2 linked regions of the Homo sapiens genome follow. The protein of the gene in region 1 interacts with the protein of each later gene in a biochemical or structural test. Each region holds a gene or a part of one and is shown on either strand. Other genes may lie near its edges. The genes, in order: USP32 and RAB35.

Evidence for each region.
Region 2: the proteins of USP32 (region 1) and RAB35 form a complex in vitro, tested with the Homo sapiens proteins (one study listed by BioGRID).

What each region holds. Positions count from the first base shown.
Region 1 is NC_000017.11:60,206,896-60,214,186, forward strand, and holds part of USP32 (ubiquitin carboxyl-terminal hydrolase 32), read right to left. Parts: intron 6,768-7,291; coding exon 6,686-6,767; intron 5,204-6,685; coding exon 5,129-5,203; intron 4,620-5,128; coding exon 4,481-4,619; intron 4,224-4,480; coding exon 4,118-4,223; intron 2,649-4,117; coding exon 2,475-2,648; intron 1,934-2,474; coding exon 1,759-1,933; intron 1,316-1,758; coding exon 1,164-1,315; intron 238-1,163; coding exon 126-237; intron 1-125. UniProt on the Homo sapiens protein: Deubiquitinase that can remove conjugated ubiquitin from target proteins, such as RAB7A and LAMTOR1.
Region 2 is NC_000012.12:120,094,464-120,099,909, forward strand, and holds the end of RAB35 (ras-related protein Rab-35), read right to left. Parts: intron 4,692-5,446; coding exon 4,567-4,691; intron 4,473-4,566; coding exon 4,348-4,472; intron 2,911-4,347; coding exon 2,782-2,910; 3' UTR 636-2,781; downstream 1-635. UniProt on the Homo sapiens protein: The small GTPases Rab are key regulators of intracellular membrane trafficking, from the formation of transport vesicles to their fusion with membranes.

The sequences.
Region 1 (7,291 bases):
TTCCCTTGGGTTCCAAAATTCTTCTGCTATAATATCCTCAGCATGAACAAATATAAAAAAGATGACAACTCTTAGACAAATATTTAAAGGAGCAATCATGAGAAGGAGTTCTAGTTCTATCTTACCTGTCTGTGTTGGACTAGAAGCTGAAATTGGAGACACAGGGACAGGAATTTCAAATGCACACAAAAATCCACTCACTGAGAGTCGTACTTTTTGGTTGTCCTGAGGAAAGTTCTACAGAAACAGAAGCAAGATGAGAAGGGGGAGATGTTTCAGATAAAATGGAAAAGTTCTCTCTCTAACATATTTCAAAAGAATGTCTTAGGCGCTTTCATCCGTAAAACCAACGAGATGATTGAATAATTTTTCAACTACATAAAGGATGAATGCTTGATAAAAATAACGGAAAACTAACCTCAATTTTCGAACTATTATCTCTTTTCACAGGAAGAAGTGTGTTATATACGACTGACTTCAGTTTTGTCCGTTTCAGGGATCTAAATTCCAACCCTCAGAGACTCCATTTTTGCATTTCATATTAAGAAACTGTCAGTGAGGTGAGAGTGTGTTCAGAAATCCCAAAGATGAATATAAATAATACCAGTTGCAGGAGCTTAATTTAGAGTAGGCAATATATTTATTAGATTATTTGTTTCCCCAGCTGGTATGTAGAAAGACATGATTGGTGTCAATTTGTCTTTACTCTTAATTTCTTAGTGTGTTAAAAGACCAAGTATATATATTCATAAATACTAAAAACACACATTCATAAATACATAAAATACTTTAACCTAGGAAGAATTCTAGTAACAGCGGTAATACAGAAGAGTTGTCAAGGGTAATAGCAGCAGTCTTTGGTAACAGCAGCAGTCTTTGGTGGAAACCTATACTATAGTGACACAGCTAGAACACTCCATATAGGCAGCCTTACGTATTTCCCTTCTTCAAAAATACCACCATCAGTATTATCCCTTTATTCTGGTAGAAAACTCTTAAGTTTCTGGGTTGGAAAACTTGGCATTTTTTGTTGTTGTTGTTCAGTTTTCGTTATGTTTTAGTATCTCTCTTGGTCACATAACCTAACAATTGATCATAATAATTGAGAAAAATGTCATCTTTGGAGGATAGAATCAAAAGTTTCTTAGAGTAGTTAATATTACCTTTATGTTGGAACCATGTACTTCTGCTAGAAGGATTTGTTCTGAATTAAGTCCACAGAGATCACTCAGCTGTTTTTTTAAACCTGTGTACTTTTCATCCATATTCAGTCTTAGTCCATACCGTACAGGGGTAGTACCATCTAACTTAATCACTAGTAAAGAGAAAAGATCTTTTATTGGTAAAATGCAGGTTTCATTGAAAGTCTTAAATGCTGTGTACAGATATATCTGACCTGTAAATATAATAGCAAATATTTCAGCCTAGAATTTTTATTTTATGTGTAAACACTAAAACAGATGGTACTTAGGGATAATATTAAGTGAAATCAGTATTTTTTTGGTGTTCATCTGACATAAAAGTATCAGTGGCTTTGCAGGGTTTTAAAGAGAGTTGCTGGCATATTTGAAACCAAAAAAACATGCCCCAGTCTACATCTTTCAAACCTCAAGTCATGCCTAAAATTAGGTTGCTCAATTATAATATGCTGACTACCGGTCTTTATTTGTAAACAAATAACTATGCTTACAAATTCAGGCTATTTAAATAAAGTAAATTTAATGGAGTCAAGTAATTTTTCAGAACTTTCTGACCTACCTGTTATTTCTAAGTGCATATAACTGTCCATTGGTAGTGGCAAAGACAAAAAATTGAAAGGGTCAAATCGGACACTTATATGCCCACATGTCTTGCATTTTACTTGAGATCTTAGCTGCCCATGGAACAAATCCACAACAATTGATCTATTTCTTCTTAGATGGTTGTCCCAGGCCTAGCAATAAAAAAGATGAGAATTTTCTCTCAAAATCCAAAAGAGAAGCATTTCTATATAAATTCAAAGAAGCTAGTTAAATATATTGGATTTAAATGTAAAGAATATAATCCTTACTCTTCATTTAACATAAAATATTAAATTGAGATGGAAAATCCTATTTTTCATTTGTTCTTATCAAGGTAACAATGGTAAATATTAAAGTTATTTGTCCATTAACAAGTATAAAGCATGCCTATAGGTCACTGTATCCATTACTTTAGCAATTACGGGGACTCTTTAAATTCCACTGGATAATTATTCCTACATCCAGTCCCATAAAGTTTACAATATGAAATGGCAACAGTTTTCTATTTTCATTAAACGTATTTTTGTTTTGGCATTATTGCATAAGAATTAAGCACAGAAATAGAAATTCATTCATTTTTGCAGTAAAGTTCTGATCTCAGAATAGTTGAGTTTGCATTTAAGTTGTGCTACATGTATTTGTGGCCAGAACATTTTGTCTATTGCTTACATTAGAAACTCAAAACTGACAAACCTCTGCAGCTACTTCCCAGTCTGGTCGCCCATCACTGTCCTTCAGTTCCACATATGGCTTTTCATGGACTCGATTAAGATCTTCATGAAGACCATCCAAGAGAAAAGCCAGAAGTTCTTGGGAGTCCTGTTGCTGAAACCCATTAAACCTGGGAGCATATTTTGCTATGGTCCACTATAAATATAAGAGAAGTCACAGTCATTATTTCCTACCCATAAAATTTGGAATGAACATGTCCTATAATCCAATCAGAGCCATTGTAAGAAAATAAATAGTATAGTACTTAGTCTGCCTCTATTTCAACAAATATATTTTGGATAATCATGAAATCTTTTGAATCTTAATGTCAAATGACCCCCCCCAAAAAAAGAGAAGTATTTTGGCCAATACTGTGCAATACTGTGTCCTCAGTTCAGTATTATGTAAGCAAACTGTTCTTCAGGCACACAGATGTTATTTAAGACAGAAACATTAAAACAGCGTTTGCTCACATTGAAAGACATCCTGTTCTATAACGTTTTACATTTTTATATGCATATAAAATATGTATATTTTATAGGTACATAGTATATACATAACATATGCATAAAATAATGTGTATATAATAATACATAACATGTATAAAATAATATGTGTATACATTATTTTATATAATATAATGTTGTCTTCAACAATTACATTTTCTGGTCTTGTTGCATCCTAAATTTTATTAACTGCATTATATTATAGAATTATTTTGAGGATATAAATTAATTAGAATAGTGCCTGGCAAGAGGTAAGTAGTCAAATGTGTAGCTGTTATAGTTAATAATTTGTAATATAAAAAGCTTTTGCTTTGTATTTAAATAAAAATAATGAATAATCCTAACTTCACTAAAATCTACTACATCTGATATTAATATAAAACTTATATTCATTAGTTTCATTCATTCATCCTTCTACTTTTTTTTTTTCTTTTTGGAGACAGAGTCTTACTCTGTTGCCCAGGCTGGAGTACAGTGGTGCGATCTTGGCTCATTGCAAACACCACCTCCCAGGTTCAAGCGTTTCTCGTGCCTCAGCCTCCCAAGTAGCTGGGATTACAAGCATGCACCACTATGCCCGGCTAATTTTTTTTAGTAGAGACAGGGTTTCGCCATCTTGTCCAGGCTGGTCTTGAACTCCTGGCCTCAAGTGATCCACCCACCTCGGCCTCCCAAAGTGCTGAGATTACAGGCGTGAGCCCCTGCGCCCAGCCTACTTCTTTGTATTCTACAGATAGAACTATCTTAGTTACGTTGAAAATGGATTGGATTGGATGTAATTAATAAGACTCTGAGGTCCACCTTGCAGTTAGAATACTGCTAATAGTGAAGTATTACCAAAAAAGGTTTACTCTTCATATAAGATGTTTGACAAATTAGTAAAATGAATGACATCCCGAATTTAGAGTGTACCTTTGGTCTTTATCCTACCCACTACATATACAGTAGTAATTTTGCATATATTTAAACAAGCAAAAGAATTTGACCTTTTGTTTATACCAAGTGAAGGATCCAAAAACATTTATTAAGTTAAAAGGCTAAACACAAAAAACAAGCAGAGAAAAATGATTAAACAACTATTAGGAATTAAATACTTTTATATTATTTTAACCTGCTTACCCGAAGCTTTAATGGGGCAACATTCTTCTGAGTTCCACTCCAAAGTTCCTGCACTAAATCACCATAGCATTTAGCCATATGCCCCTTCATACCAATGGGATTTGTCCTAGAAGTTTGAGAGGAAAATTTGTTGCCAAAGATTCTCATAAATCACAATCATGTGGGCGCAAAAATGCCTAGCATCTCACATCAAAATATCTTTTCTTTTTGAAACAAGAGATGTATTCCTTGGCCTATTTCATATTAAATAGGGCAAATAAGATAAAATCTTTCTCCCACAGGGTGAAAAAAGAGGAAATTTAGGTGATATTGGGTTTATATCAAAGTCACAGGTTAAGAGGCCAGTGACTCCAGAAAGATTACCTGTTGAGTTCATAAAGATGTCTCCCTGAGATAAAATACTGTGTCAGTGGCTGTGTGTTACTAACACACTGGATGCTTGAGTTCATGAAGCATGTGTTTCCCAGATTGCTTAGACCTGTGGCTCCCTTTTCTGTGGGAACTGGAACAAACAATATGAGAACCAAAGCTTAGCTGTAGTAATATGCCATGGCACAAACAGTTACTTATATTCAATGAAAAGGTTTTTTATAACTCTCATAATCAGCTAAATGGTGCTAATAATTCTCTAGCAGGTCTCTGAAATGCTAGAGAAGGCTTTTCATGGAGTGTCTGGCAACAGTGATGATCCATGCTCATTTGTAACCCAGAAGCAGCAATTATTCTTTTTAATTGCTATGATTTTTCAAAATAATTCAAACAATTCTTCTTCTAGTATGTCTTTTAAAACATATAAATTATTTAATTGCAGAGTTAGAAAGAAATTTAGAAAATAATTTGATGGTGGGTTTGCCAACATCAAATGCTGCTTCAGGAAAAAAGAAAAAGAAGAAGGCCCTAATTACTTTTGAACTAGAAAACCAAAAGTTGTTAGCACTTTAACAGTTGAGAGAAGAAAAAAAAAGAATACATTTAAAATAATCTCTTTAAAAAATAATACTGGAGACTTACCCTTGTGTCTATCTATTTTACTACTATTTGCTATAAAAGACATCTCCTCAGGCCAACTCATATCTTTGTTGCGAACTGGAAGGACAGATAGGAATGTGTTAATTTCTTATCTATCTAATTTATACCCATTCGATTGCTTTTTTTTTTTAAAGACATCTTATTCCTAAATCAGAAGTTTTAAAATCTAGTTAATTTTAGTACATACATTGCTTAACGACGAGGTTATATTCTGAGAAATGCATCATTAGGTGATTTTGTCTTTGTGTGAACATCACAGAGTGTACCTACACAAACCTAGGCTATGTATGGTATAGGCTGTCGCTCCTTGGCTACAAACCTGTACAGTATGTTACTGCATTGAATACTGTAGGCAAGTGTAACACAATGGTAAGTATTTGTGTATCTAAACATGTTAGAACATAGAAAAGGCACAACTAAAAATACAGTATTATAATCTTATGGGACCACTGCTGTATACAGGTCTTTTGTTGACAAACATCTTTTTGCAGCACATGCCTGTAATTGGCTCTAAAACCATTCCTACTCTTCATATTGAGGACTTTAAAGTCACTTGGTTTGAATAATCTTATCCCTCAATTACCTACTTGAAGTAAAATTATACTCAACCATCTACAGAAGTAATTAAAGTTCAGAAACAATGGAATTTCTTATACTTAAAACATTAGAAATTACAATTCTTTCTTAAATTGTAACAACTGTCAGAGTAATTTATTCCTTTTTTTTTTTTTGAGACAGTCTGGCTTTGTCCCCCCAGGTTGGAGTGCAGTGATGTGATCTTGAGTCACTGCAACCTCCGCCTCCTGGGCTTGACTGATTCTCGTGCCTCAGCTTCCTGAGTAGCTGGGACTACAGGCACGTGCCACCACACCCAGCTAATTTTTGTATTTTTAGCAGAGACAGATTTCACCATGTTGTCCAGGCTGGTCTGGAACTCCTGACCTCAAGTGATCCACCCATCTCAGCCTCCCAAAGTGCTGGGATTACAGGCGTGAGCCACTGCGCCCGGCCTATTCATTTTAATACAAAGGCAGCTAACAATGTTGCCACAAAACTTGATGGGAAAAGATACACTTAAAAAGTTTTTAATGGCATGTGCATGCCAGTGTGTAAATCTATGAATATACAAATAGCTCTGTCAGTGAGTAGCCAATGTTGGTGACTAATGAAAGCCTGTGCTACTAACTATGCAAGAAAGTTGTTCTTTTTACTCAAACTCAAAGCAGCAACTTGAAAATTTTAAGGAACTATAAATGTGTAAACTGAATTCACTTGTTTTTTATCTACCATTCCCATTCTTTGTCAGTCAATGACTAAAAACAGAATATTTTCCCTTTAAAGCAATCTAAATTGTATGGTAGGATTACATAAGAGTTCAAAGGGTTTTCTTTTTCTTTTTTTTCCAAAGGGTTTCTTTATCATAAAAACATAATAATCAAATAATAGTTGTTTTGGAGAAAATTATAAAATGGGTTATTAGTAACTCTTTAAATTCTTCCCCTTGAAAATTTAATATAGATGCATGCTTCCATCTTGTACCTTCAATTACCAGGTGTTGTTCATCCTGGATTTTCAAATATTCCAATTTATGATCCTCATCATCCAGAAGAGTAAGGTAGTTCTGTGTAAGGAGGAGGAAATGTTTTTGTTATTTGGTTAGTAAACTTGAAACAAATACAGAGATAAAAATGAGTAACAATTAAAAAAACAACTTCTTTGTAGTTATATAACATATCACAAATATCTGGCCTACTATAGTTGTTCATAAATATTTATAACTTAGGTGGCAGTATGACAGAAAGACAATGTGTACTTCATAAGCGTTATCTTTCTCTTTTTTAAAATTTCAATAGGTTTTTGGGGAACAGGTGGTGTTTGGTTACATGAATACGTTTTGTTTTTTGTTTTTTTTTTTTTTAAAGATGGAGTCTGGCTCTGTTGCCCAGGCTGGAGTATAGTGGCACTATCTTGGCTCACTGCAACCTCTGCCTCTGGGTTCAAGCAATTCTCCTGCCTCAGCCTTCTGAGTAGCTGGGACTACAGGCTCCCACCGCCATGCCCAGCTAATTTTTGTATTTTTAGTAGAGACAGGGTTTCACCACGTTGGCCAGGCTGGTCTCAAACTCCTGACCTCTGGTGCTCCAG
Region 2 (5,446 bases), on another chromosome or scaffold:
TCTGAATAAGAATAAAATGAATTTCTACAGAGCTTCCTGCCTCAGTCTCTGGGTATTTGCGGGGGGCGGGTTTGGTCTGAATGCAGCTGACATGTCAGACTCACCACTGGCTGCTGCTGGAGAGGTAGCAATAGTGGTTCCCCTGCACCCGGGCCACCTCAGATGCTGGTACTTACTTAACCAAGGGATTTGGCCAGGAAGGGCATCCTCCCCTGCCCCTCCCGCCTGGCACTGCCCCCTGCCAGTGCTGCAGCGTGCCATCCGCAAGGCAGGCCTGCCAACGCTGCTTCCCAGGCCAGCAGGGCCCTAAAGCTTGGCAGAAACTTCAAGCCAGAAAGAAACCACGCCAGGCAAAGGCTTCCACTGCATCCTTCCAGGCATGTGGAGGATAAACACGGAGCTTCCCCTGGCATCTTACCACATGTGCTCCCAGTCCAACTAGGGGGAGACTCAACCCTGGCCCACCTGTTCATGGAGAAAATGGACCTGGCTTCTGGAAGTGTCCCAAGGGCCTCGACAGGCTCCTGTGCAAGACTTAGGCCAAGAACAGGGAAGAGCAGGACACGGTGGGTGGGAAGAAGCCACGGCCACTCAGCACATCTCTGGAGGGAGAGCAAACAGACCCTGGAAGAAAATTTGGCAGCTTGAACCTTTATTTTTAGTATTTTTTTAAAAAGCATAATTAGAAACTTTCAATACAGAAATACTCCTAGCAAACCATTGAAAAGTGGTGTTTGTTTGACAGGAATTTCACATCAGGTCCACTAGGACGTCGGTCCAGCCCTGAGTCCCCACCCCCACCCCATAACCCCCATTCATGCGTGTAACAGTGGGACAGGCACACTGTCATGACCAAAATCACCCCAATACCTGGGGCTGATGTCCAGCTGCCAGAAGCCATGGGGGCTTCTAGCCTGGGCTGGAAGCCCCCAGGAACCCCCCTCTTATTGCTTGAATTTGCAAGCACACCCTCGCTGGCCTCGCCTGATCGCTCAGAGGCCAGCATGCCCCCCGCCCACCGGCACAGGAGCCCCAGGCACCGTGCATCCTCAGGGCCCGTGGCCAACCAGGACAGTCCCAAGGACGGAGACCCCGCTTCTGCTCCTGCCGCCCCCGCCCCCGACCAGATGAGGCTGCCTGCTGGTCAGCCCTGCAGCCCCCTCCACAGCACCCTCCTTCCCAGGCCCATGGGGCTCCCCCACCCCATCCCGTGGCTCCAAAGTGAAGGCCTGTCCCAGAATCACCAGCTTTTGGCAGTTTGGGCAAGTGGAGAGTCGGTGAGAAGAAACCCCCAGTTTTTATTGATTAAAAACCCATCCACAGTGCTAACATGGAAACTGCAGTGTGATCTGTGATGTGATTGTCCAATCAGGGCTCTCCCTGGAAATCGCCTAGGAAAGGAAATCTAAGGAAACACATCCTGGTGTTAAACTCGGTTCTTCCCAGGTCACTTGATCCCTGTAGTGGGAGGGGAATGAGGTGTCCGGGCTGGGGGTCGGGGAGCAGTCATCAAGTGCAGATGACCCTGGTTGTTCTCCAGGGCACTGGGGCGTGTCAAAACTGGCCGCCCCAGCCATTCCTTCCCACCCGCCAGGAAATCCTCTTGCTACCTTTGTCCTGACAAAGGTTAGGACAGTGACCAGGGCCTGTCCATGGTCCCCACCCAGAGGCCCCAGGCATGCACTCCCCACAGTGCCCGAGGCTGCAGTGTAGACTCCTGACCTCCAGTGGGAGGCAACTCGGACAAGGGTGGGAGGCCCCTTCTCCGCTCCCACCAAGAAAGCCCAAGAGTCCAGCCCCACAATGGCAGGAAGCCATTCATTTTTTTCTAAAAACAGTGGACACAAGTGGGGTGGCCTCAACTTTTGCTGCTGTGCCAATCAAACCTCAGGGAAAGAAAATAATTGTGAGGAATTTAATTCACTTGATTTGGCTTCATTTTCTTGATCTGTTAAAATAATCCTCCCATAGCCCCCCTGCCAGCCCCATCTCTGCACGAACCTACCCCGACCTTTCTGTTGGAACTGAAACCTGTTGGTGTAAATGAGAAGCCATGGCTGCCCTGGGTTTGGAGCTCAGAGGCATCTAGAAGGCAGGACAAGAAATCTGTTGGCCAAAGGGCAAGACCTGCCACCTCTGTGGAACTGCAGGGCCTGCCTTGAGACCAGGTTCCCCAGCTCCCAGAATGGCTGTGGGGACAGGACAACGGGGAGGGAAGGGAGCTGGCACAGGCCCCGGAGAAGGGGCAAGACCCTGTGCAGCGGGGACAGAGGCTGACAACCTGTCGGAGAGAATGAGCAACGCGGAGCCCACTCCACTGGCACGGGCTGGCCGCAGACGCAGCTAGAACGTGCCGCTGTCTCCTCAGGACGCTGCTTGCAGTAAGATGGGCTGGGGAGGGGCGCGGGGAGGGTCTGTTGCAGCAGGCTGGCATCAAGAAGGCAAAAGCCAGAGCAGGACGTGGTGTGCGGCCGGGTAGAGCAATATACACTATGTACAGACTCTGCGAATCAGTCCGCTCGGCGGGCAGCGTCCTCGCCAGGTCCAGGCGCCTTGGCCGGGGAGGAGGGGGCACCAGTAGGGAAGGGCGGGCTGGTCCAACACCTTCTTGGCACTCGAGGAGGGCGGGGGAGGAAGTGCCGATGGCACCTCCCGATACAAAAACATGGAGAGAATTCTTTAAATAACGGCACGAAACTGAGACTGTCCCCCGAGGAACCTCCGTGGGCCTCGGGCTGGGGGAGGGACCGCAGTGCAGTCTCTGCAGTGGACTGGGTGCCATTAGCAGCAGCGTTTCTTTCGTTTACTGTTCTTCGTGAGCTTCACCACATCGTTCTGTTGTTGCTGCTGCTGTTTTGCCAGGTTGTCTTTCTTTGCTCGGAGGACCAGCTCCGTGATGCAGTTGAACATCTGTGGAGAGGAAAGAGGAAGGGCCCGCCTCAGACCTGGCCAGGAGGCCCCTGCTGGCCTGCACGGCTGCCTCCCCGCCTTCCGGGGCCCAGCTCTTTCTACCTGTGCATTTTTGGTATGTATGTCTTCAAAGCCTATTCTAGAAGGAGGTGGTGAATTATTTTATTTAAAGGTCAAAAAGGAACAACATTGCTAAAACCCCACCTCTACAAAAAACACAAAAATTAGCCGGGAGTGGTGGTGCACACCTGTAGTCCCAGCTACTTGAGAAGCTAAGGTGGGAGGATTACTTGAGCCCAGGAGATCGAGACTACAGTGGGCTGTGAACACACCACTGCACTCCAGCCTGGATGACAGAGTTAGACCCTGACTCAACAAATAAATAAGTCTGAAAAAAGGAACACCATCAGAGGCCCATGAGCTGTGTGGACTTGGGGAAGTCAATCTCACAGGGGTTTTCCAGTCCTTCTTTTAGAGAGACCAACCCCTTTCCTTCAGCTGGAATCTTTTTTTTTTTTTTTTTTTTGTGAGATGGAGTCTCGCTCTGTCGCCCAGGCTGGAGTGCAGTGGCGTGATCTCAGCTCACTGCAAACTCTGCCTCCCTGGTTCACACCATTCTCCTGCCTCAGCCTCCCGAGTAGCTGGGACTACAGGCGCCCACCACCACGCCCGGCTAATTTTTTTGTATTTTTAGTAGAGACAGGGTTCCACCATGTTAGCCAGGATGGTCTCGATCTCCTGACCTCGTGATCCGCCCGCCTCGGCCTCCCAAAGCACTGAGATTACAGGCGTGAGCCGGCGCGCCCGGCCCAGCTGGAATCTTATGACATGACAGATGAAAGTGCCCCTGCTGTTCACGGACATAGGTGACCCGGGGTCTGCCTGCTCCACGCCACTTCATGGCATGTGGGGCCCAGAGAGGTGAAGTCACCGCCCAAGGTCATACCAGCCTTGCCCACAGGCCCAGGTGGATGGGCCAGCATCAGGACACCAGCCTGACTTACAAAGGAGCCTGTGCCCGCTGCTGTGTGGCCCCTGTGCCCTGAAGCAGTGGGATCCTCGACTTCCACAGGCCTCTGGGCTCCACACAGCACAAGGCGGCCAATGAGGCAGAGGACTGGAGTGGAAACTGTGCTTGGCTTTGGTGTGGGACAGAGGTTTACTCAGTCTCTTACTAGCCAGGTGGTGGTCCTTGAGTTACTTCAACACTTGGAGCCTCAGTTTCCCTATTTGAAATGTGGGTATAATTGTACCTACCTCAGAGGACTGTTGAACTATGAACTAAGATCGTTAAAGGGCCTGGCACATAGTAGGCACTCAATAAATGGCAGTTACTATGACATTTTCTGTTGGTCATTTAGATGCCTCAAGCAGGCCAGCAGCATGGAGAAGGCGGCCACGGGTGTGTGGCAGAGCCACAGTGGCCCAGGGCCTCACCTCTTCCACGTTGACATTCTCCTTGGCGCTGGTCTCGAACAACTGGATGCCCATCTGCCCGGCGAATTTGTAGGCATCTTCCGTCTCCACCACCTTCCGCTCAGGGTCGTCATTCTTATTACCCACTTCAAACGAAGGCAGAGTCAGCGCAGCCCTGAGGGGCGCAGCCGGCTGCCTCTCTCCCACCCAACCCCGACCCGGCCCTGAGTGCAGCCTCACCTAATATTCGGCACACATCATCACAGTTCTGGTTGATTTCGTGAAGCCACCGCTTGACGTTGACAAAGGACTCGGCACTGGTGACGTCGTAAACCACAATGACCCCGTGGGTCCCCCGATAATACCTGCAGGGCCAGAGTGTGCGGCAGCATGTCAACCCCGACAGGAGTCACCCCCTTGCCGGGACCCACCTGCCCACGTCAGGACACTGACCCGGAAAAGGTGAGGGTGGCCCTGGAGCCTGGGCTCTCACTCAGCCTCGGCAGATGCCCCCGAGCCACAACAGGCCAGCAGGAGAGGCTACTGCGGCAGCACTGACTCCCCCTGCCCGCCCGGGGCACCAACAGGGCGGGAGGGCCAGCCCCTGGGCAGCAGAGCAGGTCTGAGGAGTCACCTCCTGCTGTTCAGAGTCTGCTGCAGGCTTGAAACATCTTTGAAGTTCTTGCTTTATTTTGGGAAATCAGGCAGTTTTTGTATTTGACATCATGTTATCACTGTCTTTGAACATTCAAAAAAATATTTGCTCCTCAAACCTGTTTTAGAGAACCTTTCCAAGAAGCCACACCATCATGACGCCCTGGCAAAGTCTGTGCCCCTCCCCTGGGGCAGGTAGGCACCTCCCTTCCTGCTACTCTTGGCTCATCTGTGCAGGTGGCAGGAAAAGCATGGAAGCCACACAAGCATCCAGGGATGGCTGGGGAGAGGGCGCCCAGCAAAGCCATCACCCCAAACATGCAGAGCCCAGGGCCAGCCAGGAAGGCCAGAAGGAAGGGGAGGCCCAACTCTCCTCTCCAGACCCCATGTCCCCATTCATCCCAGTGGCACAGGACGACATCAATCCCCGGAGGAGGAGGGGGACCACAGCCTCCGCTTCCCCGAG